7 linked regions of the Homo sapiens genome follow. The protein of the gene in region 6 interacts with the protein of the main gene of each other region in a pairwise test. Each region holds a gene or a part of one and is shown on either strand. Other genes may lie near its edges.

Region 1 (3,500 bases), on a different chromosome or scaffold from region 6:
ACAAATTTTGCTGGGCATGGTGGTGCGTGCCTGTAATCCTAGCTACTCAGGAGGCTGAGGCAGGAGAATCACTTGAACCCAGGAGGTGGAGGTTGCGGTGAGCCAAGATTGTGCTCTCCAGCCAAGAATGTCACTCTAGCCTAGGTGACAGAGCAAGACTCAAAAAAATAAATAAAAATAAAAGAAATGGATAATTAAAAATACAAGTTGAAACATAAACACCCATTCTTTTTTCTTTTTTAGTTGAGCACAGCATCATCAATTACCCCACTTTTTAATGAGAGAACATCTAGGTGAAATACGAGGAAATAAAATAATTGAACACTATAAGTCATTTAGACATAGCAGACATCTGCAGAACACTGAACCCAACAACAGCAAAACACACATTCTTCTCAAGTGCAGAAGAACGTTCTGTAAAAGAGACCCTTTGCTAGGCCATAGAAGAAACCTCAACACATTTTAAACAATAGAAATACAAAATATTGGCCGGGCGCGGTGGCTCACGCCTGTAATCCCAGGATTTTGGGAGATCAAGGCAGATGGATCGCTGGAGCTCAGGTGTTCGAGACCAGCCTGGGCAACATAGTGAGACCCTGTCTCTACTAAAAATGCAAAAATTTGCTGGGTATGGTGGCACACACGTGGATTCCCAGCTACTTGGGAGGGTGAGGCACGAGAACTGCTTGAAGACAGAAGTTGCAGTGAGCTCTGATCACATCACTGACAGAGTGAGAGTTAGTCTCCCCCCACCAAAAAAAAAACCAGAAATAAGTATGTTCTCTGACCACAATGGAATGAGAAATGAAATCTGAAACTAATACAGAAAATTTGGCAAATTCACTAATATGTGGATATTAACACACTCCTCCATAACTAATGGATCAAAGAGAAATCAAAAGGGAAATACTTCGAGATGGATGTAAAATAAAGACATAATATACCAAAACTTATATAAAGGAAGTTAATAGCTATAAATACCTATCCTAAAGATTGCAAATCAACAACCTAACGTGGTCCACCTCGACACAATAGGAAAATAAAACTAAACCTAAGCAATTAGGAGTAAGGAAATAATAAATATTACAGGCAAATTAATGAAATAGAGAACAGTAAAACAATAGAGAAAAATCAATGAAACCAAAGCTAGTTGTTTGAAAAGATCAAACAAAACTGATTTAGCAGCCAGGCACAGTGGCTCACACCTGTCATCTCAGCACTTTAGAGGTGGGTGGATCACAAGGTCAGCAGTTTGAGACCAGCTGAGCCAATATGGTGAAACCCCGTCTCTACTAAAAACACAAAAATTAGCTGGGCGTGGTGGCGGATGCCTGTAATCCCAGCTACTCAGGAGGCTGAGGAGGGAGAATCGCTTGAACCCAGGAGGCAGAGGTTGCAGTGAGCCGAGATCGCACCATTGCACTCCAGCCTGGGTGACAGGGCAAGACTCAGTCTCAACAACAAAAAAGTGGGGAAAGGATGTAAATAGACATTTCTCCAAGAAAAATAAACATTGTCAGTAATTAGTCATCAAAGAAATGCAAATCAAAACAAAAAGGAGATACCACTTCTCACCCACTAGGATGGGTAAAATAAAAAACTAAAAAAGAAAATAAGTTTTGGCAAGGATATGGAGAAACAGGAATCTTCACACATTGCTGGTGGGAATGTAAAATGGTACAACCAATTAAGAAAACAGTGTGGCAGTTCTTTTTAAAAGTTAAATGACTTCTAGTTTTTGGTCCAGCATGTAAGGAGCTTGGAAGTTATTATTCCCTTGTAACAAAAAGCTGAACAAACTGAAACCTCAACAAGCTCTTCTTCCATCCTTCAGAGAACTGATGTCACAAGGCAAGCTCTGCCCCCTCAAACTGAAGAGAGAGGCGGATACAGAGAGTCATAACTTACCAGAACACGCAACCATGAACAGAAGCCTCTGTGGGAACCGTTACTTAGATGGGAAACCCTGAGCTGTAACTGATGAATTGCTGGGGGCACAGCGGGCCCAAGTCTGAGTTAGCAATCTCAGGGGGCCCAGTCTTGTAGAGGAGAAGAATAATGATTTTGAAATAGGCTAGATATTTCTGCTCTTTCTCACCGGGCCTTTCCCTTAAAACTATTTGATCAGAGCCTCACCTGTTGGGGTTTCATCAGTGTCTAAATTACCTGTGGAAAGAGATGTATCCCCCATCATCTTCCTCTATTCATCTTGTCCCGCCAAGTGAGAGGAGAAGGAAGAACTGAGAAGCACTTGTGAAGTTCAGTGTCGCGGGGCACAGGCTCAAGAATAGACTGAGACGTCATCAAAGGATCAGGGAATCCTTGCCCTCTGCCCACATCTCACCACTGGGTTACTAAAGGTCTATTTACTTCAGTGCCTTTCACCCAGTACATTGCGTCTGGCTTTCCAGAAAGAAATGACAAGGCATACTAAAAGGCAAAAGACAGAGCTTGAAGAGATAAAGCAGAACCCCTCATATATGGCAGGGACATTGGAATTATCAGACTGGGAATTTAAAACAAGTATGATTAACAGGTGAAGTGCTCTAATGGAAAAAGTAGACAACATGCAAAAACAGGCAATACAGGCTGAGAAGTGGAAATCCTAAGAATGAAAAAGCCATGGGAGAGATTTGAAAAGCACTGTAACAGAAATGGAGAATGACTTTAATGGACACATGAGTAGACTGGGTGTGGCTGAGGAAAGACTCTGAGCCTGAAGACATGTAATGAAAACTTCTAGGTTGGGTGCGGTGGCTCATGCCTGAAATGCCAGCATTTTGGGAGGCTGGGGCGGGAGGATTGCTTGAGGCCAGGAGTTCAAGACCAGTCTGGGCAACATAGTGACACCCTGTCTTTACAAAGTTTTTTTTGTTGTCGTTTTTTTTTGTTTTTGAGACAGACTCTCCCTCTGTCGCCCAGGCTGGAGTGCGATGACACAATCTCAGTTCACTGCAACCTCTGCCTCTCGGGTTCAGGAGATTCTCCCGCATCAGCCTCCCGAGCAGCTGGGATTACAGGCACCCGCCATCATGCCCAGCTAATTTTTTTGGTATTTTTGTAGAGACAGGGTTTCACCATGTTGGCCAGGCTGGTCTCAAACTCCTGACCTCAGGTGATCCACCCACCTCGGCCTCCCAGAGTGCTGGGATTACAGGCATGAGCCACCGTGCCCGGCCACAAAAAGTTTTTAAAAATAAGCTGGGCTTGGAGGCATATACCCTGTGGTCCTAGCTACTTGGGAAGCTGAGGTAACAGGATGGCTTGAGCCCAGGAGATTAAGGCTGCAGTGAGCCATGATTGTACCACTGCACTCCAACCTGGCTGATAGAGCAAGACCCTGCCAAATAAATAAATAAATATCTCTAGGGCTATCACTAAAAAAAGGAAAGAGAAGCATACCTGACTTGCTAAGAAAGGAGAAAAAATGGAATCACACAAAACATGCAATCAAAACCAAAAAAGGCAGAAAAAGAGTGGAAGACAAAATAAGGAACAAC
Region 2 (3,500 bases), on a different chromosome or scaffold from region 6:
TGTTGCTCAGACTGGTCTCAAACTCCTGGCCTTAAGCAGTCCTCCTGCCTCAGCCTCCCAAAGTGCTTGGATTACGGGCATGAGCCACTGTCCTGGCCTAGTTCTTAATTCTAAAAAATACTGTTGCTCATTTAATTTTACAGAGTATTGGAGGCAGGATGGATTTCTTGCATACATTGTTTCTGTATTTTATCCCATGAACTATCAGGGTAATTTGATTCTTTTCTCCTTATTCTAGGTTTGTGAAGTTTTCTATGCCCAGTGTTCCTGACTTCGAAACGCTATTCTCACAGGTTCAGCTCTTCATCAGCACTTGTAATGGGGAGCACATTCGATATGCAACAGACACTTGTAAGCTAAATAACATTTTATTCTCCATTGAAAATATTTTGCCCTTGTGGTTATATTTATATTTTGAATATTTTGTTATTGTATCTAGTTGCTGGGCTTTGCCATCAGCTAACAAATGCACTTGTGGAAAGAAAACAGGTAAGAAATACTATTCAAGTATTCCTAGTTTTGTTATAATATGTAACTAGCTTACACAATGAATTACTTTATCAAGATTCCAGTTAGTACTGAGCATCCACCACCTAGATATCTGTGGTCACTTGAGAGCACTCACAGCCATTGCTGTAAGCTCAGGCAGTCCCCGCATCCCCTGAATGAGGTGGAGGCACGGGGTGGTTTGGCACCTCAGGGAGGCTGCTGCTGGAACTACCAAGTAGTTGGAATTACCAAGCCAGTACCCTTTATGTTGTAATATGCTGGGTTTTGTCTGTTACATTTTTTCTTTTAACTTTTAATTAGGACATTATTTTAGCCTTACAAAAAGCTTCAAAAATAATATAAAAAATTCTCATACATTTTACCTAGATTTTCCAAATGTTAACATTTTACCGCACTTATTCTTTTTTTTTTCTCTTCCTCTTTTATTCTGAGCCATTGTAGAGTAAGTTGCACATATGCTATTGCTGTTCTTTATCCCTAAATACTTCAGTGGGTAAAGCCTAAAAATTAGGACATTCTGTTACATAGTATAGTGTAATGGTCAGCATCCAGAAATGAACTCTTACTGTTTTTTTTTTTGGAGACAGAGTCTCGCTCTGATGCCTAGGCTGGAGTGCAGTGGCGCCATCTCTGGTCACTGCAACCTCCACCTCCCAGGTTCAAGCAATTCTTCTGCCTCAGCCTCCTGAGTAGCTGGGGACTACAGGTGCATGCTGCCACGCCCAGCTAATTTTTTGTATTTTAGTAGAGACGGGGTTTCACCATGTTGCCAGGCTGGTCTCGAACTCCTGAGCTCAGGCAATCCTCCCGCCTTGGCCTCCCAAAGTGCCAGGATTACAGGCGTGAGCCACCACGCCCGGCCCAGAAATGAACGTTAATATAATGCATCAACAAATTGACAGACCCCATTTAGATTTTCCCCCAGTGAAAAGGACTGTCTTTTGCTATAAAAGGACATTAGCTGTTTGGACAGTGTACTATATATTATATAGCAAAAGAAAACCGTGGACCATGGATTGCATTAGACTGCTTTGTTTCTTTAGTGTCCCTTAATCTGAACAGTTATTTCATTCTTTATCTTTTATAATACATAATTTATAATGTGGATTTTTAAAAAATTTATTTAGTTATTTATTTTTTTGAAATGGAGTCTCATTCTGTTGCCTAGGCTGGAGTGCAGTGGTGTGATCTCAGCTCACTGCAACCTCCACCTTCCAGCTTCAGGCGATTCTCGTGCCTCAGCCTCCTGAGTAGCTGGGACTACAGGCGCATGTCACCTTTCCCAGCTGATTTTTGTTTTGTTTTGTTTTTTGAGACAGAGTCTCGCTCTGTCACCCAGGCTGGAGTGCAATGGCGCAATCTCGGCTCACTGCAACTTCCGCCTCCTGGGTTCAAGCAGTTCTTCTGCCTCAGCCTCCCAAGTAGCTGGGATTACAGGTGCCTGACACCATGCCCGGCTAATTTTTGTATTTTTAGTAGAGACAGGGTTTCACCATGTTTGCCAGGCTGGTGTCAAACTCCTGACCACAGGCGATCCGCCTGCCTCGGCCTCCCAGTGATTTTTGTATTTTTAATAGAGGTGAGGTTTTGCCATGTTGGCCAGGCTAGCCTCTAGAACTCCTGACCTCTGGTGATCCGCCTGCTTCAGCCTCCCAAAGGGCTGAGATTACAGGTGTGAGCCACTTCACCCAGCCAGGTGTTTCTTTTTAATTTGAAAGTAAATTTAAGATTAGTGGTTTGAAAGAGGCTGAAAATAGAACCAGTTGTTATTTTGTAGTACTAAGTAACCATGTTTGAAAGAGATGGTTAAGAAAAATCATGAGTTTTTGAAAAAGCTGTAAGTTATTGAGCTATTTTTAGTCTCTTCACATATATATATATATATTTTTGTTGTTGTTGTTGTTGTTGTTGTTTTTTTGAGATGGGGTCTTGCTCTGTTGCCCAGGCTGGAGTGCAGTGGCGCGATCTCAGCTCACTGCAACCTCCGCCTCCCGGGTTCAAGCGATTCTCCTGCCTCAGCCTCCTGAGTAGCTGGGACCACAGGCACATCCCACCATGCCCGGCTAATTTTTGTATTTTTAGTAGACATGGGGTTTTGCCATGTTGGCCAGGATAATCTTGATCTCCTGACCTCATGATCCACCCATCTTGGCCTCCCAAAATGCTGGGATTACAGGTGTGAGCCACCGTGCCCAGCAATTTTGGAAGAGACTATATTTTAGTCTGCCAAAAACTGATTATGCCTTACTTGACACTTGGTCTTCTTATTTATAATCAGGGCAGGAAACAGTCCTTTTGAAATCTATGGTGTTAGTTTTGGTAGTAATTTACTACCAGGTAAGGGGTAGACTGCCCTATGGGAAAATGCCAACACCCTTAGCCACAAGTAATTTTCCTAAGCATAGGCTGTTGTCTCTTGTATAATAAGTGATTTGGAAAGTTTTCATTTGTTTAGATGTTAATATAATAAACTGTTGAGAAAGTAATACTGTTTTTGATTATTGATCTTCATTGTAAAAATAAAAGCTTTTTATGATTTAAAAAATGGTGCTGAGTTATCTAAAAATTCCAAGAAACAGCTTAAGAAAAGTTTTCTGACTTAAATGGGACAGAAATTTCCTGAAAGAGTATGGAAACCTCATATTGCTATTTAAAGGAACCTATCAATTAGTGTTATTTTTTATTTATAAGTGACAACATAAGATCCAATGTGCTGCCATCTTTGAGAACTTATCTGAAAGAGATGTCATTTCTGACAGCCCCTGCGAGGAATTGGCATCCTTAAGCAAGCCATAGACAAGATGCAGATGAATACAAACCAGCTGACCTCAATACATGCTGATCTCTGCCAGGTAAGCAACCAAAGTGTGTGATTCACACCAAGTCAGAGGTGTAGGTTGTTTATGGGCTTGCTCAACATTGGGTTTGATAAACACAGGCAAGTTGGCGATATTGTGATGTGTTATAGAAGTTGGAATATGTAGGTACAT
Region 3 (3,477 bases), on a different chromosome or scaffold from region 6:
ACAAAGAATCCTTTCGGCTCTCATTCACTCCATGACTTTGGTTCATTTCATCATTTCAAGGGAGAAGTCAAAGCCAGGGACCAAACAGAAATGTAGAATCATCTAAGGACAGCTGTCAGACCATTTTCCCCACTGTCTTCACTGGCTGGCCAGAAAAATAGCTTCACCTAGCACAGTGTTGATGTTCAATAACTGTTGAATGAAGGTTGGAAGGGCTTTGCCCTGAGCACTGAGGAGAGAGAGCTGGTTGCGTGGGACTTGAAGTCTGTCTCAGTTTCTTTAGGTGGGACTGATGCCCTTGGCCTTCCTCCAGGGAAGGCATCCAGCATCCAGAGGTAAGGATTCTCCTGTGGACCTTGTGACCTCTGACTCCTCCCCCTTCTTCCCCCAGAGTTCAAGGAGGCCTTCTCCCTCTTTGACAAGGATGGAGATGGCACTATCACCACCAAGGAGTTGGGGACAGTGATGAGATCCCTGGGACAGAACCCCACTGAAGCAGAGCTGCAGGATATGATCAATGAGGTGGATGCAGATGGTGAGCCCCACAGAGCGCGTGGGCAGCCCTGCTCCTGGTCACCCCGAGTGACTGCAGGGAGCCTCTCTCAGGGTGATGGATGAGCCCGTGTCTCTCAGGGCCCAGGCCAAGAGCATTCTCCATCCTTTCCCCACCTTCCAGGGAACGGGACCATTGACTTCCCGGAGTTCCTGACCATGATGGCCAGAAAGATGAAGGACACAGACAGTGAGGAGGAGATCCGAGAGGCGTTCCGTGTCTTTGACAAGGTAAGCAGCCCTCTCCAGGGGCGGCTCTGAGACTGACGCCAGCCTTCAGGCAGACAGGCGGAACTGGAGCCACGGAGCTACCACTTCCAGGAGGTCCGGGTCCCGGTGCCAGCCTCATTGCCAACCTGCTCTGCCACCTCAGGCAGCCTCCCTCACTGTGCTCACTGCTGAGGGATGGTGATGACAGCCACCCCTCTCACTGCCTCTCTCCCCACCGGGAGAAGTGCCCAGTGAAAGGCTTTATCCCCAACCCCCAGGATGGGAATGGCTACATCAGCGCCGCAGAGCTGCGTCACGTAATGACGAACCTGGGGGAGAAGCTGACCGATGAGGAGGTGGATGAGATGATCAGGGAGGCTGACATCGATGGAGATGGCCAGGTCAATTATGAAGGTGAGTCAAGGCCAGGCTTGATCTCTGGAACAAGAAGAGAATCGCAGCTTCAGGAACAAGCCCCCAGATCCCTCTTGTTGGGGAGGGCCGCTCGCCACTTAGCCTGCCCGCCTGACCTCCTCTCTCTCTGCTTCACTCCACAGAGTTTGTACAGATGATGACTGCAAAGTGAAGGCCCCCCGGGCAGCTGGCGATGCCCGTTCTCTTGATCTCTCTCTTCTCGCGCGCGCACTCTCTCTTCAACACTCCCCTGCGTACCCCGGTTCTAGCAAACACCAATTGATTGACTGAGAATCTGATAAAGCAACAAAAGATTTGTCCCAAGCTGCATGATTGCTCTTTCTCCTTCTTCCCTGAGTCTCTCTCCATGCCCCTCATCTCTTCCTTTTGCCCTCGCCTCTTCCATCCATGTCTTCCAAGGCCTGATGCATTCATAAGTTGAAGCCCTCCCCAGATCCCCTTGGGGAGCCTCTGCCCTCCTCCAGCCCGGATGGCTCTCCTCCATTTTGGTTTGTTTCCTCTTGTTTGTCATCTTATTTTGGGTGCTGGGGTGGCTGCCAGCCCTGTCCCGGGACCTGCTGGGAGGGACAAGAGGCCCTCCCCCAGGCAGAAGAGCATGCCCTTTGCCGTTGCATGCAACCAGCCCTGTGATTCCACGTGCAGATCCCAGCAGCCTGTTGGGGCAGGGGTGCCAAGAGAGGCATTCCAGAAGGACTGAGGGGGCGTTGAGGAATTGTGGCGTTGACTGGATGTGGCCCAGGAGGGGGTCGAGGGGGCCAACTCACAGAAGGGGACTGACAGTGGGCAACACTCACATCCCACTGGCTGCTGTTCTGAAACCATCTGATTGGCTTTCTGAGGTTTGGCTGGGTGGGGACTGCTCATTTGGCCACTCTGCAAATTGGACTTGCCCGCGTTCCTGAAGCGCTCTCGAGCTGTTCTGTAAATACCTGGTGCTAACATCCCATGCCGCTCCCTCCTCACGATGCACCCACCGCCCTGAGGGCCCGTCCTAGGAATGGATGTGGGGATGGTCGCTTTGTAATGTGCTGGTTCTCTTTTTTTTTCTTTCCCCTCTATGGCCCTTAAGACTTTCATTTTGTTCAGAACCATGCTGGGCTAGCTAAAGGGTGGGGAGAGGGAAGATGGGCCCCACCACGCTCTCAAGAGAACGCACCTGCAATAAAACAGTCTTGTCGGCCAGCTGCCCAGGGGACGGCAGCTACAGCAGCCTCTGCGTCCTGGTCCGCCAGCACCTCCCGCTTCTCCGTGGTGACTTGGCGCCGCTTCCTCACATCTGTGCTCCGTGCCCTCTTCCCTGCCTCTTCCCTCGCCCACCTGCCTGCCCCCATACTCCCCCAGCGGAGAGCATGATCCGTGCCCTTGCTTCTGACTTTCGCCTCTGGGACAAGTAAGTCAATGTGGGCAGTTCAGTCGTCTGGGTTTTTTCCCCTTTTCTGTTCATTTCATCTGGCTCCCCCCACCACCTCCCCACCCCACCCCCCACCCCCTGCTTCCCCTCACTGCCCAGGTCGATCAAGTGGCTTTTCCTGGGACCTGCCCAGCTTTGAGAATCTCTTCTCATCCACCCTCTGGCACCCAGCCTCTGAGGGAAGGAGGGATGGGGCATAGTGGGAGACCCAGCCAAGAGCTGAGGGTAAGGGCAGGTAGGCGTGAGGCTGTGGACATTTTCGGAATGTTTTGGTTTTGTTTTTTTTAAACCGGGCAATATTGTGTTCAGTTCAAGCTGTGAAGAAAAATATATATCAATGTTTTCCAATAAAATACAGTGACTACCTGATTTGGCTCCTCTCCTCCTGTCTCAGTTTCTGGCCTGCCCCCCTCCAACACACATACACACCAACCCCAGCACTGACTCCTTTGGCCCAGAGGTGGAAGAGCCTCTCCTCAAAGCTGGCTCTGAAGCTGTGTCCAGTCAGTGCAGCCCAGTGGACGCCTCTGAACCACAGTTCTGATCCCAGCTAGATCGCAGGGTCATCAACGGCAGGGTCCTGTCCTAGAGATAGTCGCACAAATGGACTGAAAGGCGGGGACTGAGAAGGCTCCTCTGAGGCAGGCCCATCATGCCATGGGAGCACACAGAGAAGGGGTCAGCCCAGTCAGGTGGCAGGACTGAGCTGAGACCTACCTGAAAGATGGGCAGTCCCCTAGCCGGGTAGGGGAAGGACGGAAGGGCATTCCAGTTCGGGGGGACGACATGTATGGAAGCCCTGAGGCAAGAGAAGCCCAGACATCAAGGAACTGAAGGAAATCCAGCGAGACTGGGTGAGAGCCCCGAGC
Region 4 (4,236 bases), on a different chromosome or scaffold from region 6:
CCCAACACTTGGGGAGAACTAGGCGGGAGGATCGCTTGAGGCCAGGAGTTAGAGACCAGCCTGGGCAACATAGGGAAACCCGGTATCTACAAAACAACAATAGCAACAATTCGCTGGGGCGGGGGGGGGGGGGGGGGGGCGCCGCCTGTTGTTCCAGCTACTCAGCTACTCCAGAGGCCCAGGCGGCAGGATCGCTTGAGGCCAGGAGTTCTTGGCTACACTGAGCCGAGATCCCGCTACTGCACTCCAGTCTGTCAGATCCTGTATGGAAAAAAAAAAAAAAAGACAAAATAGTTAAACTATGCCTTTAATTCAATAAACTATTAAACTAACAATACCATGAAGAAAATCAGAATAAAGAAGAAAGATAGGCTGACGCAGGAGAATCGCTGGAACGGTGAGGCGGAGGTTGCGTGAACCGAGATCGCGCCACTGCACTCCAGCCTGGCGACAGAGTGAGACTCCAAAAAAGAAAAAAAAAAAAAAAAAAAAAAGAAAGATAGGCTGGGCCCGGTGGCTCAGGCCTGTAATCCCAGCGCTTTGGGAGGCCGAGGCGGATGGATCACCTGAGGTCGGGAGTATTCGGCACCAGCCTGACCAACATGGTGAAACCCCGTCTCTACTAAAAATACAAAATTAGCCGGGTGTGGTGGCGAATGCCTGTAATCCCAGCTACTCAGGAGGCTGAGGCAGGAGAATCGCTTGAACCTGGGAGGCGGAGGTTGCGGTGAGGCGAGATCGCGTCACTGCACTCCAGCCTGGGCAACAAGAGCGAAACTCGGTCTGAAAAAAGAAGAAGAAGGAGAAGGAGAAGAAGACTATCTGGGTTCCATCAACGATTCTCGTGCCTTTTGTCTTTAAACTTTGGTGCTGCCTTCATCAAAATCATACTAATGAAATTCGACGCGCGGGTCATTCATTTAATTAAAATGAAACCCCAAATCTGTTGACTATTGGTATCCTCATGACACTGTTCTATAATGTGACAGAAAAGACGAAGGTGAAGAACTATGGTTTCGGCCGCTGTTACACAGGAGGTAGCAGGTGGCAGGCCGTTTACACAAATTAGCTCGTTTTTGGAGACGAAGTTACCCCAGGCTGCCCGCTCGGATGAGCCTGCGAATTCAGGCCCAACCCAGGCCCCTCCAGGTCGGGAAGGTACGAAGAGCCCGCTGGATTCACACAGGGCAGGGGCGCCTTCGCAGGTGCGAGTGGATTCTGGGTATCGCGAGCGTAGGCCCAGGCGCAGCCCCTCTGCCTGCGGGACTGAACAGGCAGGTGCGTCCCAGCGGCCGGGCGGGCCGGGTCTCCCTCCTGCGGGCAGGCGCCGCGCTGCGGGGCGCGGCTGGCGGAGCGGGGCAGCCGGGCGCAGCGCCCCCTGGGCCTGAAGACTGGCGGGCGGCGGGGGCGCGCGCAGGCCGGCGGGGGCGCGCCGCGCTGCGAGGCCTGCGCGCCAGGCTGCGGGAGCCATGCGGCGATCGAGGAGCTCTGCGGCCGCCAAGCTGCGCGGGCAGAAGCGGTCCGGGGCCTCCGCGGCCCCCGCGGCCTCCGCGGCCGCTGCCTTGGCACCCAGCGCCACCCGCACACGGCGCTCCGCTAGCCAGGCCGGGAGCAAGAGCCAGGCGGTGGAGAAGCCGCCGTCGGAGAAGCCGCGGCTGAGGCGCTCGTCGCCGCGGGCCCAGGAGGAGGGCCCGGGGGAGCCGCCGCCGCCTGAGCTGGCGTTGCTCCCGCCACCGCCGCCGCCGCCGCCGACTCCCGCGACCCCGACGTCCTCGGCGTCCAACCTGGACCTGGGCGAGCAGCGGGAGCGCTGGGAGACGTTCCAGAAGCGGCAGAAGCTTACCTCCGAGGGTGCCGCCAAGCTCCTGCTAGACACCTTGTGAGTGCGGCGGGCCGGGGGGCGCGGGAGCCGTTGCCACGCGGACCCCCTCGGCAGGAGTCGGGCTCGCAGCCCGCGTGCAGGCCTTGGGCGCCTTTCAGCTCTGAGCCTTCCACGTTACGGAGCCGACGCGGCTCCCCCGTTAGCACTGGGGTTATTCCTTAATTCTAAGGGCGGCGGGGCGGGGCGGTGCTTCTAGGGCTGTGTGGCCTGGGAATGGAAAGGGGGCTTCGTCCGGAGCTTGAGGGCGCGCGCAGCCGTCTTGGGACACAAAGAGTCTTTCCCGGCCATAAGCATCGTGCTCGGGGACGTTGTCTCTTGCTGGCGCGCAAAGGGTGTGGGGGCCTTTCTTAGTGAAAAGAACATAAATCCCACGGCTTTCTCTTACCCGAATCCCCTTTTTTTTTGTGTTTGCACACGTGTTTTTGAGGGTGGGTGGAAGGGAAAGGTAGAAGCGTTGAAGGAAGCATGAATAGTTTTGAACTCACTGGGAAGCAAAATCCCGTCATTGTTCCAGGCACTGCCAGGGAGGGAGCAGGGGGCGGAGGTTATTGATCCGGGAGAGAAGCGCGCGCGAAGAGATGCTCCGGCCTCGCGCGGCGGCGGGGATACCTACGTAGGGAGGCTTTTATGTGCTCAGCCAGCTAATGCTCCCTGCCGCTCGCCCTCCTGGCTGCTCCGCAGTCTTTTAGATGGCCCGAGGAGCATCTCGAGTGTCCGCGATTTGGGAAAGAGCTTTTAACTGGGCTGTTAAAGGGCTGCCTTCTTTTCTCCAAATGCGATCTGGATTCCTGCCTCGGGGAACAGTTGTGCTACAGAGAGATATTTTAACGCCCTGATATTATATTTCAGTGTCAATTTTACGAATTAAAAAGAACAATCAAAACACTAGGGGGAAAAAACCGACAAGAATAACCTAGCAATTGCATAACCTGAGAATTACTTCTTTTCTTGAACATGTTCCTTTGAGCTTCTTGCGGAAGAAATTCTCTTAGGATGAGTCGTCCCCGACAGAAGATACATATTTGGTTTTCTGTGTGCTTCACTTTTTGGTTTTTCATCTTGGACTGCACACTGAATTTTTAAAAAACGTTCATCCATCAAACATTTGAGCACCTATAGGGTGACGGCTGCCTCTGGGCAGAAGGAATACGAAGATCCTTAGGAATGTAAAACTCATGGTGTCTTCAAGGCATACAGAAAAAAAGAAGAATGTAAAACTCAAATTTGAGATAAATTTTTATTTTAAGACAAACTGATAAATGGTCAAGAAAAAGTTTTAAAATATTGACATAAAAAAGCTGTTTTTCTCCCACTAGATTGCCATGACTTTGTACTTATAAAGTCTACTAAATTATATTCAAAAAGTGTGTATAACTGTACCATTTTCGTTAAAATATTGTGTAGAAAAAAGTTTGGGGGAATATATAACAAATAATTAACTGTAGATCCCTCTGGGTGTAAAGATTACAGGAGGCTTTCACTTTGAGCACTCTCAAATAGTGTGAAGTTTGGAGTTTTTACAATAAGCATTATGTGTGCAGAAAAAATTAAAATACATAAACGTAAAGAAACATGAAAAAATGATCAGTCTTAATCATGCAAATTAAAACTGCAGTGAGCTATTTTTCCTATAATTATTGCCTGAGACTGTACAGTGAAATGTTTTCTCATTTATTTATCGGGTAAGGGTGTTCAATCCTTTTGGAAAGCGATTTTAAGACATTTATCAGATCTTAATGTTCATTTCTGAGTTTGGCTTATATATAAGCTTTAAAGGGTTAAAATTGTATGTAGGCTGGGTGAGGTGGCTCATGCCTGTAATCCCAGCACTTTGGGAGGCCGAGGCGGGTGGATCACCTGAGGTGGGGAGTTTGAGACTGCCTGACCAACATGGAGAAACCCCGTCTCTACTAAAAATACAAAATTAGCTGGGTGTGGTGGTGGGCGCCTGTAATCCCAGCTACTCGGGAGGCTGAGGCAGGAGAATCATTTGAACCCTGGAGGTGGAGGTTGCGGTGGGCTGAAATCGCGTCACTGCACTCCAGCCTGGGCAACAAGAATGAAACTCCCTCTCAAAAAAAAAAAATTCTATGTAATGTGTATTACAACTATGTAAAACGCATGTGTATGAAGAATACTGGAAAGAAATAGAGCAAAAATATAAGAGCCTTTATTAAGTTTCTCAAAAGGCTCTTCTGGACCTCTGGACTTGATTGAGTACACAGTCTTATTTTTCATAGCAGCCTGTACCTCCTTTATCACAATCATAATTAATTATTATTTGAGTAAATTGTTAAGGTCGGTAAGGGTAGCAATCGTGTCTGCTGTATCTTGTTTAGTGTTCTCTCCTTCGT
Region 5 (3,500 bases), on a different chromosome or scaffold from region 6:
GCTGTCAATTTCTCGTTTAGTGTTGCAAGTCTTGAACGACAAGACATATCTGAGAAAAAGAGACTGGTGTTCAGGATTAATGTCACTCCAAACACAGACACAGACACACACAACACCTACAATGAAAAAGAGGAATAATACACAGAATACAAATGGAAATGGATACAGTGCTAAGATCCACTCATAGCACAGTTGCTTAGAGTGGATCTGCTGAACTTCCTATCAAGTGTTGCAAGTAGAGAATAACGGCCCCACAAAAACGTCCTTTCCTGCAGGGCACGGTGGCTCATGCCTGTAATCCTAGCACTTTGGGAGGACTAGGCGGGTGGATCACCTGAGGTCAAGAGTTCGGGACCAGCCTGGCCAACATCATGAAACCCTGTCTCTTACTAAAAATACAAAAATTAGCCAGGCATGATGGCACATGCCTGTAATCCCAGCTACTTAAGAGGCTGAGGCAGGAAAATCACTTGAACCGGGGGGGGCAAAGGTTGCAGTGAGCCAAGATCTCGCCACTTCACTCCAGCCTGGGTCAAACAGCAAAACTCTGTCTCAAAAAAAAGTCCTTTCTCTAATCCCTGGATCCTGTGAATATGGATTATACATGAGGAAACAGGGCTTTGCAGGTATGATTAAGGTTAAGAACCTTGAGATCCTAGAGTTTGTCTTGGATTGTCCATTTGGGCCCAATCTAATCATAGTCCACAAATGTAGGTGAGAAAGGCATAGGAAGGGGGTCAGAGATGAAATGGAAGAAGAAAAAGAGATTCCAAGTGTGAAGGGGATGCAATCTGCCATTGTTGGCTTTGAAAGTGGAAGAAGGGAGCCATGAACCAAGGGATGTAAGTGACCTTTAGAAGCTGGGAACAACTCTCAGCTCACAGCCAGCAACAAAACAGAGATCTCAGTCCTACAACCACGAGAAACTGAATTCTGCCAACAACCCAATATTCGAGGAACTAGACCCTCTCCTAGAGCCTCCAGAAAGGAAGGCAGTCCTGCTGAAACCCTGATTGGAGCCCAGGCCAGGAGCAGTGACTCATGCCTGTAATCCTAATACTTCAGAAGGCCAAGGTGTGAAGACTGCTGGCCAAGGTGTGAAGATTGCTAGCCCAGTGACCAGTGTTTGATTTATGACCTACACATGGTAAATAATAAATGTATGTGGTTTAAGCCACAAAATGTGTGGTAATTTGTTTTTTTGGTTTTTTTTTTTGAGATGGAGTCTCACTCTGTTTCCAGGCTGGAGTGCAGTGACGCAATCTTGGCTCACTGCCACCTCTGCCTCCCGGGTTCAAGCGATTCTCCTGCCTCAGCCTCCTAGGTAGCTGGGACTACAGGTGTGCGCCACCATGCCCAGCTAATTTTTTTTTTTTGTATTTTTAGTAGAGACGGGGTTTCACCATGTTGGCCAGGATTGTCTCAATCTCTTGTCCTCGTGATCCGCCCGCCTTGGCCTCCCAAAGTGCTGAGATTACAAGTGTGAGCCACTGTGCCCAGCCTGTGTGGTAATATGTTATGCCAGGAATAGCAAATGAATACACCAAGGCTGTACAGCCATTTACTAATGGCCTAACTAAGACTTTCAAGAGAGGGGACATGGCAAGAATAAGAAAATAATCTCAACAGGAAAGAAACGAGGCTGGGCGTGATGGCTCACGCCTGTAATCCCAGCACTTTGGGAAGCCAAGGTGGGCAGATCAACTGAGGTCAGAAGTTTGAGACCAGCCTGGCTAACATGGTGAAACCCCATCTCTACTAAAAATACAAAATTAGCTGGGTGTGGTGGCGGGTGCCTCTAGTCCCAGCTACTCGGGAGGCTGAGGCAGGAGAATCACTTGAACCTGGGAGGCGGAGGTTGCAGTGAGCTGGGATTGCACCACTGCACTGCAGCCTGGGTGACAGAGTGAGACTCCATCTCAAAAAAAAAAAAAAAAAAAAAGGCCAGGCACGGTGGCTCAGGCCTGTAATCCCAGCACTTTGTGAGGCCAAGGCAGTGGATCACGAGGTCAGGAGATGGAGACCATCCTGGCTAACACAATGAAACCCCGTCTCTATTAAAAATACAAAAAATTAGCCGGGTGTGGTGGCGGGCGCCTGTAATTCCAGCTATTCGGGAGGCTGAGGCAGAGAACTGCTTGAACCCGGGAGATGGAGGTAGCAGTGAGCCGAGATTGCACCACTGCACTCCAGCCTGGGAAACAGAGTGAGACTCCGTCTCAAAAAAAAAAAAAAAGGAAAGAAAGTAGAGGCCAAGAAAGCAGCAGAAATTATGGGGAGGGAAGGTGTGAGAGTTCTGAGCTCATTAAAGCCATGTCACTACTGTTGCTCCTAGAGGCAAAGGCCTTTCAGAACTAGAGAAAAGTTGGAGAGCATCAAATACCCGATAAAGCCCACATTCCATCTGTGAAAACAGCCAAAATTATTCTTCTTCCTCTAGCTTTTCCAATCTTCTTTTACCATCTCATTCAAAATGAAACCAGATTTAATTTAAAACAACTTTTTCTCTGCAAACTTCTGTAACAGGAACTATTCTTTTTCCAACTATTCTCAACATATGAGAGAAAAGGTATCTTAGCATGGTCATTATCTTCTACTCTCTCCTCCAACATTGTTGTTCAGTCATCTCTCAATAAACTTCAGTTTTCAAGTCTGAAATATTCGCTGAGACTCTCCCACGCAATGATTTAACACTTAGCTAACAAGTTTCCTTTTCATCTATTCCCTGGCTGTTTTGCAAAAGCGCTTCAGCATCCATTTTGACAAATCTTCCTACACCCTGATCTTGCCTCAACTTTCATCTTATTATGTCCAAATCTTACTCATCTTGCCTGCCTATCTCCTTCAAGGCTAAGTTCAAATTCTATCTCTGAGAGGTCTTGCCAGATGGACATAATAATTCTTCCTCTTCTGTATTTATCTAAACATTTACGGATGAATTTTTTTTTTTAAAAGAGACATGGTCTTGCTCTGTCACCCAGGCTAGAGTTCAGTGTTGCAATCATAGCTTACTGCACCCTCCAACTCCTAGGTTCAAGTGATCCTTCCACCTCAGCCTCCCGAGTAGCTGCAATTACTACTCAGTAGGTGGATGCCACTGTGCCTGGCTAATTTTTTTGTTTTTTGTTTTGGTAGATATGGGGGTCTCACTTTGTTGCCCAGGCTGATCTCAAACTCCTGAACTCAAGCAATCCACCTGCCTTGGCCTCTCAAAGTCCTAGGATTACAGGCGTGAGGCACCGTGCCAGCCTCTGAATTTCTAATTTGTAAGTTATTCATGTACTTGGTCTTTGGTTATGACTTCCCTCTTTGGATAAAGATTTTACAAATAAGAATGTGCATCACTACTATTTAAGATGGTGAAAAAGCAACAAAACCAAATGCCCATGATTGGAATGGTTTGATATAGCGTATTAATGAGACTATTAAAATAGCCATTGAAAGTTACAAGTGGCCAGGCGCGGTGGCTCATGCCTGTAATTCCAGCACTTTGGGAGGCC
Region 6 (3,500 bases):
TCTTGTTAGAAAGATTCAGCTTGGACTCCTACCTCAGAAGGCATTTCATAAGCCTCATTGTCAGGATCCACAGGCATATCTTCCAGAATTCCTTCCTGTGGGGCTCCTTCTTCATTCTAATATTTAAAGTAAGAAGCACAAAAAGAACATGATGAAGTAGCATTTTTCACTTTTAAAAATCAGAACCATGTTTTGGAAAAATCTTACATATAGGGATGTTGGCCACGGATCTTGAAAATGGCACACCTTAATATTACTACTGGCATTCTAAACTCCACAATGCCTCCGGGGAAACATTGCGGCAACATGGGTTATCAACCCTCAAAGTATGTAAACTTTTTGCTCAAGTAATTTACTATTTAGGAAATAATCCACAGCTATAGTCCAAAGATATTTTTCACAAGATCAATGACAGCAGGAAACAAAATTTTTAGAATTGTTAACTAAATGTTCAATGAATAATGAAGAGTTAAAAAATTATTGCTGGGTGCAGTGGTTCACTCCTGTGATTTCAGCACTTTGGGAGGCTGAGGCAGGTGGATCATTTGAGTCCAGGAGTTCAAGACCAGCCTGGGCTGTTACAATGAAACCCCATCTCTACTAAAAATACAAATAAATAGCTGGGCATGGTGGCACATGCCTACAGTCCCAGCCACTTGGGAGGCTGAGGCAGGAGGATCACTTGAGCCTGGGAGGTAGAGGCTACAGTGAGCCATGTGCATGCCACTGCATTCTAGCCTGGGTGACAGAGGGAGACCTTGTCTTAAAAAAAATTATCATTCAACTACTCAGTAGATTATGATAAAGACCTGTATTACTATTACCTGAGAATTATGTAACAACTACCTATTTATGGTATAATATTTAGCAGGCTATAAAGTGTTGTCTATATTATAGATACAACCTACACAGAATTCAGACGCAAAGGTAAAAAGTTTGGAAGAAAACACAATAAAATATGAAAGTTATTTTGTTGGATAGTATGTATGTTATTTTGACTTTTTTTCTAAGTGTTTAACTTTTATAACCACTTATAATGTAAAAGCATACATATTTAACACATTAATTTTAAATGACAATGAAGAAACAAATTCTTTTCTGAAATTTGAAGACTGAGACTATACATATTGAAGGAAAATAATCAAATACATGGTCAGAAAATTTTTCTAGGTATCTCTTCCTAGACAAAGAATACTACAAAACTCAGCCTGAAATGGTCATGGCTTTGTTGGTATTCTTCACTAAATACCTTTTGTTGCTTTGCATTTATTTCAGCAAAGTAATTATAAGAAGATAAAGGTAAGTGAAAATTCAAAGAACAGAGAGGCAATGTGAGCCTAAAGGGACTTGGAGAAAGAGATCAAATAATCCCTCAGCCAACGCGGCTGATTTTCAACAACATGTCTGATGTAAAAAAGCTTCCCCATGTCTTCACATGGAAGTGACTGACAGGGACGCAGAAGTATAAGAAAATGGCTAACAGTAAGAAAAGGTCACACTAAAGATCATGCTTATGGTAGGTGGGCAGAGAAGCTTACAGATCATTCTGCCCTTGCCAATGCCCTTTTTATAAACTAAAAAAAATCCAAATAATATATAAATTAAATAAAATATGAACCACCCCAAACTACCTCACTTTAAAATGTGGAGTAAACATACTGTTTTCGTAGTGTTTCACTTCTTGGTAGATACGCCTCTGCTGCAGGATGGCTAGGCACAAGGCCTTCCATGTCACAGGACTTGAGCTCAAGTCCTAGCTTCTCTAGATGACAGAGCTTTTGTGATGCTGAGAAGTTTCCTATGCTTTTTCTGAGTGTCAATTAGTCTTAGTGATCAAACGGGACAGCAAAACCTTCTTTACAACAGGGAGAAGGAAACGACATCATTAACTTTCTCATTAATATTTAGATTACTGTTAGGATATCCAAGTATAAGGGAAATAAGGCAAATTTTTTTCCATGATTTTGAAACTGACAGAGATTTGATTTTCTAATATAATTTGTTAGAAAATTTTGATATGGACCAGACAAGTAAATATGGCAGACCTACCCTGTTTGTTGTTTGATGATCAAAAAGGAGTTGTTATGACGGAACTAAGACTGATGGATATTACTGGATTTGTTTATATGTTATTTGGCTGAACTTTGAAGGATGTACACAGATGTGTAGGTTAGGTGAGTGTGTGTGTCTGCATGGTTCCAGCCTGGGTGAGTGGGTGTGTACAAGAGCACCCTGCAGTAATGGAACAGCGTCCTGTCCGGGGTGGGTTCCCATATTGCTCCCTGAGCTGCCAGGATAGGCTCCAACCACCTGCGGCCTCCACCGAAATAATTAGGTAAGTTATTTGACTTGTTTGTATTAATCTTTCTTAAACGTATATATAGCTCACATTAATTTCAATGTTTAATGTCAGAAGTGATTTATCTTTATTTAGGAGTTTGATGGTGTTTTTGTGTCCAGAAATTTGCCATAGGACTTAATTCTTGCTTATATCAATTAGCCAATGGTAAAACTGGTTTTGTTATATGTTGTTTTGCTTCAAGTCACAGTTTCCAGAAACTATTGATGAAGTTAAGTGAGGATTTACTGTATTATGTGCCCTCTGATGGAAGTACATACACATCACCATCTTAAACTAAGACTGTACTAGTTTAAGTGGGCTATTGTTCACTGATCCAATAACTTCATCAAGTGGGAACAAGCTACACTAGGGATGACAGCACAATCCTATTCTAGAGTCCAAATCGACAATAGGGTTTACGACCTCGATGTTGGATCAGGTCATCCTAATGGTGTAACTGCTATTAAAGGTTCGTTTGTTCGACAATTGAAGTCCTACATGATCGGTGAGGTCAGGAGATCTATAGCATCCTGGCCAACATGGTGAAACCCCATCTCTACTAAAATACAAAAAGTTAGCCGGGCGTGGTGGTTCTCCTATAGTCCCAGCTACTCGGGAGACTGAGCCAGGGGAATCACTTGAACCCGGGAGGTGGAGATTGCAGTGAGCCCAGATCACACCATTGCACTCCAGCCTGGTGACGGAGTGAGACTCCGTCTCAAAATAAATAAATAAATATATAAATAGAAAAAGAAAACAAAAAAAGAAAAGCCCTACGTGATCCGAATTTGAATTTGATTAACATTTAACTATCACTGACAACTTACAGCAAATATAAGGTGGTGAAAAACATGTTCATTGCTTACAACAGTGGCTACAATCAGCAAATTTTGCACTGTGAGAAACTACACAAGACAAAGAATACGTCTAATTTCAATAAGTAAATTGCAACTAAAAAGAAGTTAGTGGGAACCTGCCGCTTAAAGTAGAAGTGAGAGAGCATTAGCCAATTGCAACCTAAGAACTTTATTTCATTCTCATTGGGAACCCTACATAAGCAAATGGAAAACACATATGAGGTAGTTGGGGAAATTTGAACACTGACTTGATATTTAAGAATTATTGTTTATTTCTTTAGGTGTGATGATATATTGCAGTT
Region 7 (3,049 bases), on a different chromosome or scaffold from region 6:
AAAACTTTTCCTTTCTGAATATTAGATAATTTTCCCCATATACAATATTACCATCTCCTCTTATTAACTGTGTATTCTAAATCAAATTCTATGAAATGAGGAGGTCATGCTTAAAACTTTTTGACCTTAAGACAGACTTATTTAGGAATTTGTGGAGGAGAAAAACTATAAAAATAAAGTATTAATATGAACCAAAACTATTATTCATTTCCTTATATTCCTGGATTGAGAAATGCTGGGCCACTATTCATATTCTAAATCTTTGTTGCCCATATTTCCACAGAATTCTAGTGTGAGGTACTTCTGAGATCATTTATTCCAGCCCACTTGTTATAGGAACTGTAGTTCTAGATGACAGCCCAAATAATTCCGGTGACTGGCCAGACCAAGAGTTCAGGCCCCACGTTCCCCATCTCCCACCTAAGTCAATATGAAAACAGCGCCACCTAAATACAGTCAAAAGACAGACATTTTCTAAAACTGCAGCAGAACATGGCACAAAGTCTGTTCCTTACCTTCAATCCAATGACATTCTGTCCATTGATTTCACAGATGTTATGTTCCGTGAGAAGACCATTTCTGGCTGCAGAGCTATCTTTCACTATGGATGTTATTTTTCCATTTTTAAAGATAAAACCAACATGTCCAGTGCTATCCTTATGCATGGTAATCGTCCGTTCAAAGGGCCTACAAACATAATTGGTTCAATTAAAAACTTAATTCTAAGCTAAACATTTTAATGGATTTCATATAGCATAAATGTTGCCATATTGGATACTTTTATAATAAACACTGTTTCTAATAAGAGCAACTTATGGCTCTGATTTTATACATTCACGGAACATCTTTGTGTAAAAGTTTTTTTTAAGTTTATTCATTATGGTTTGACTGATTTACTAATCAACATTTCCTTCTTTAAGTATAAAAGACAACTGCTTTATATGGTTTTATCAATATGTTTTTCTTTTATAATTAGACTTTACAGCATTAAGAATGACATAGGCTTTTTAACTAAATCACAGTGGTAAAGATAATTTTTATTTTTTATTAACTTTTGGTATTTTCTAGAGCCAAATCATTTTTAGGACTATTTCTTTTATTTAAAACCTTTAAAATATTTCTCACATCTTGATTTTGAAAATTTTATACATTGCTATCTTTGAAAAGAAAAACTAGAGCAGCAGTAAGACTTAAGTTCCTCAAGCCCCTTTGGAAAGGGAGGCATGCAGCTATTATTAAAAGGCATCCAGCTGTCCCTCTAGAGTTGTTATAGCAGTCACATTTGCTTGATTCTCTATAAACTCTGTTATCATGTTATCATAAGGGTTTTAGGATCAACTTGTGTTTACATTATTAAATTCAGAAGAGGCATTTCTTCCTGTTAGTACAACTTACTCTTTGAAACTCTGCTTAGATAGAAAGTAAAAAGGACATTCATCTGAAACATTTACGAAATACCTAAACTGAATGAGAAACTGGAAACACAAAGATAAAACAGAAGTTTCACTGAGAAGGAACAAAAACTCAAAGCTTACTGTAACAATGCAATATACGTCTACCCTTAATTGGGTATGGAGTAGACAAGAAAATAAATGGAGGCCCCTATTTCATGTGCTAAATGTTTAAGTTCTAAATGAATGAGCTGCTAAATAGAATATTCCATGTTCTTGAAAACTACTGCTTCATAACTACCCAAAAGTCTTGATACGGTTTTCAGAACTCCCATACTACTTGGAAGTCTGCATGGGCTCTGACCCTCACAATGAGGGACCACTGTGTGTGAACACCCTAGGCTGGATGTATCTAAGCAGTAAGTTGGAAAGTGAGCCCAGAGATGCCCTGCAACTCAGTTACTTCTCCAACATACGTTTTCTATTTTCTAGAGAGATTTGTCCTATAAACTCTGAAATAAGGTATCGTATCAGAATGCTTTAAAAACAATGTAAGAAAAATCTGCACCACACAACTGCAAGACTATAAGGCTCATCAATAACATTTGATCATTTTCTGCAACAAAATAATATACTCACAAACTCTGAAAGCCCAAAAAAATGGAAAACTAGTATTGAATTTTCATTTGAGCTGTTTAGTAACAGCTTACCTGTCACGAATGGTCATGGTAATCTTCTCTCCAAAAGCCTGTTTGAGCACCTTGTGCGCTTTATCAGAGCTCCATCCTGCACAGTTTTCACCATTGATCTGAAGTACTTGGTCCCCAAATCTCAGACCAACCAATGAGGCTGGAGAATTAGCCTGGACTAGCTGAACAAATATACCCTAGATAATAAGAAAATAATTTTTGTCATTTACCACTACTATGATACGGTTTTAAACGCTGGAAAATTAGGAAACAACTGTTTATGTTGAAAACTCTACCCCAGTGACAAAAAAGAAAGAAAAAGAAAAAAAGGAAAAACTATATGAGTATATTAAGTTATCACCTCAAAAGAAACTGAAAAATTTATCAAGACAGCAACTCCAAAGAATAAGGCAAAAAAGTGAGATTTCAATGGCAATTTCTATACCAAATCATGACCCACCTGACCAACCACAATCCCCCCCTTCAACTTGGAATACAAAACTAAGGAAAATACAGTAGGACAACTTTAATAAATGCAAGCGTCTGAGTCTGATAGAATACCAAATTATCAGTACATAATCATATTTAGGGGAAAAGCGAGTCACATGTTAGAAAGTTTGATGAGTTCTTTTACAGCTTAATAAATGACAGTTTAAGGTCATAATTCTACCTTTTGAGCTGAAGCATTCCTTTACCCATTTGCTAAATTGTGTATAATCAAGTAAGATTAAAGTTTATTTGTTAGACTAAAAAGATGGGCATATTAAATCCACATGCACAGGCTTATAAAGAACACACAATGAAATAAATACAGAAAACTCAAATACTGTTAACCAATAACTACACTCACATGGATATTTTTACTTATGTAAAATCTCAATCAGAAGTTGAACAAAATATAAATAGGTAAGTATAAAAGAAGAATAAGCCTGGTAAAATATAAGTGCATCTACTTCTACAATCCTAAGC

Evidence for each region.
Region 1: the proteins of SNCA (region 6) and ZNF57 interact in binary tests that used the Homo sapiens proteins (3 or more experiments, as listed by UniProt).
Region 2: the proteins of SNCA (region 6) and COPS3 interact in binary tests that used the Homo sapiens proteins (3 or more experiments, as listed by UniProt).
Region 3: the proteins of SNCA (region 6) and CALM3 interact in binary tests that used the Homo sapiens proteins (3 or more experiments, as listed by UniProt).
Region 4: the proteins of SNCA (region 6) and CENPV interact in binary tests that used the Homo sapiens proteins (3 or more experiments, as listed by UniProt).
Region 5: the proteins of SNCA (region 6) and BRK1 interact in binary tests that used the Homo sapiens proteins (3 or more experiments, as listed by UniProt).
Region 7: the proteins of SNCA (region 6) and SDCBP interact in binary tests that used the Homo sapiens proteins (3 or more experiments, as listed by UniProt).

The regions. Positions count from the first base shown.
Region 1 is NC_000019.10:2,910,928-2,914,427, reverse strand, and holds part of ZNF57 (zinc finger protein 57), read right to left. Parts: intron 1-3,500. UniProt on the Homo sapiens protein: May be involved in transcriptional regulation.
Region 2 is NC_000017.11:17,267,747-17,271,246, reverse strand, and holds part of COPS3 (COP9 signalosome complex subunit 3), read left to right. Parts: intron 1-238; coding exon 239-351; intron 352-439; coding exon 440-489; intron 490-3,201; exon of another isoform or gene 3,202-3,269; coding exon 3,270-3,362; intron 3,363-3,500. UniProt on the Homo sapiens protein: Component of the COP9 signalosome complex (CSN), a complex involved in various cellular and developmental processes.
Region 3 is NC_000019.10:46,607,806-46,611,282, forward strand, and holds the end of CALM3 (calmodulin-3), read left to right. Parts: intron 1-18; exon of another isoform or gene 19-391; coding exon 392-535; exon of another isoform or gene 536-676; coding exon 677-783; exon of another isoform or gene 784-1,040; coding exon 1,041-1,176; exon of another isoform or gene 1,177-1,200; intron 1,201-1,292; exon of another isoform or gene 1,293-1,319; coding exon 1,320-1,348; 3' UTR 1,349-2,977; downstream 2,978-3,477. UniProt on the Homo sapiens protein: Calmodulin acts as part of a calcium signal transduction pathway by mediating the control of a large number of enzymes, ion channels, aquaporins and other proteins through calcium-binding. Calcium-binding is required for the activation of calmodulin.
Region 4 is NC_000017.11:16,350,670-16,354,905, reverse strand, and holds the start of CENPV (centromere protein V), read left to right. Parts: upstream 1-1,436; 5' UTR 1,437-1,469; coding exon 1,470-1,879; intron 1,880-4,236. UniProt on the Homo sapiens protein: Required for distribution of pericentromeric heterochromatin in interphase nuclei and for centromere formation and organization, chromosome alignment and cytokinesis.
Region 5 is NC_000003.12:10,122,175-10,125,674, reverse strand, and holds part of BRK1 (protein BRICK1), read right to left. Parts: intron 50-3,500; coding exon 1-49. UniProt on the Homo sapiens protein: Involved in regulation of actin and microtubule organization. Part of a WAVE complex that activates the Arp2/3 complex. As component of the WAVE1 complex, required for BDNF-NTRK2 endocytic trafficking and signaling from early endosomes.
Region 6 is NC_000004.12:89,729,162-89,732,661, forward strand, and holds part of SNCA (alpha-synuclein), read right to left. Parts: intron 117-3,500; coding exon 33-116; intron 1-32. UniProt on the Homo sapiens protein: Neuronal protein that plays several roles in synaptic activity such as regulation of synaptic vesicle trafficking and subsequent neurotransmitter release.
Region 7 is NC_000008.11:58,577,261-58,580,309, reverse strand, and holds part of SDCBP (syntenin-1), read right to left. Parts: intron 2,278-3,049; coding exon 2,102-2,277; intron 688-2,101; coding exon 516-687; intron 1-515. UniProt on the Homo sapiens protein: Multifunctional adapter protein involved in diverse array of functions including trafficking of transmembrane proteins, neuro and immunomodulation, exosome biogenesis, and tumorigenesis.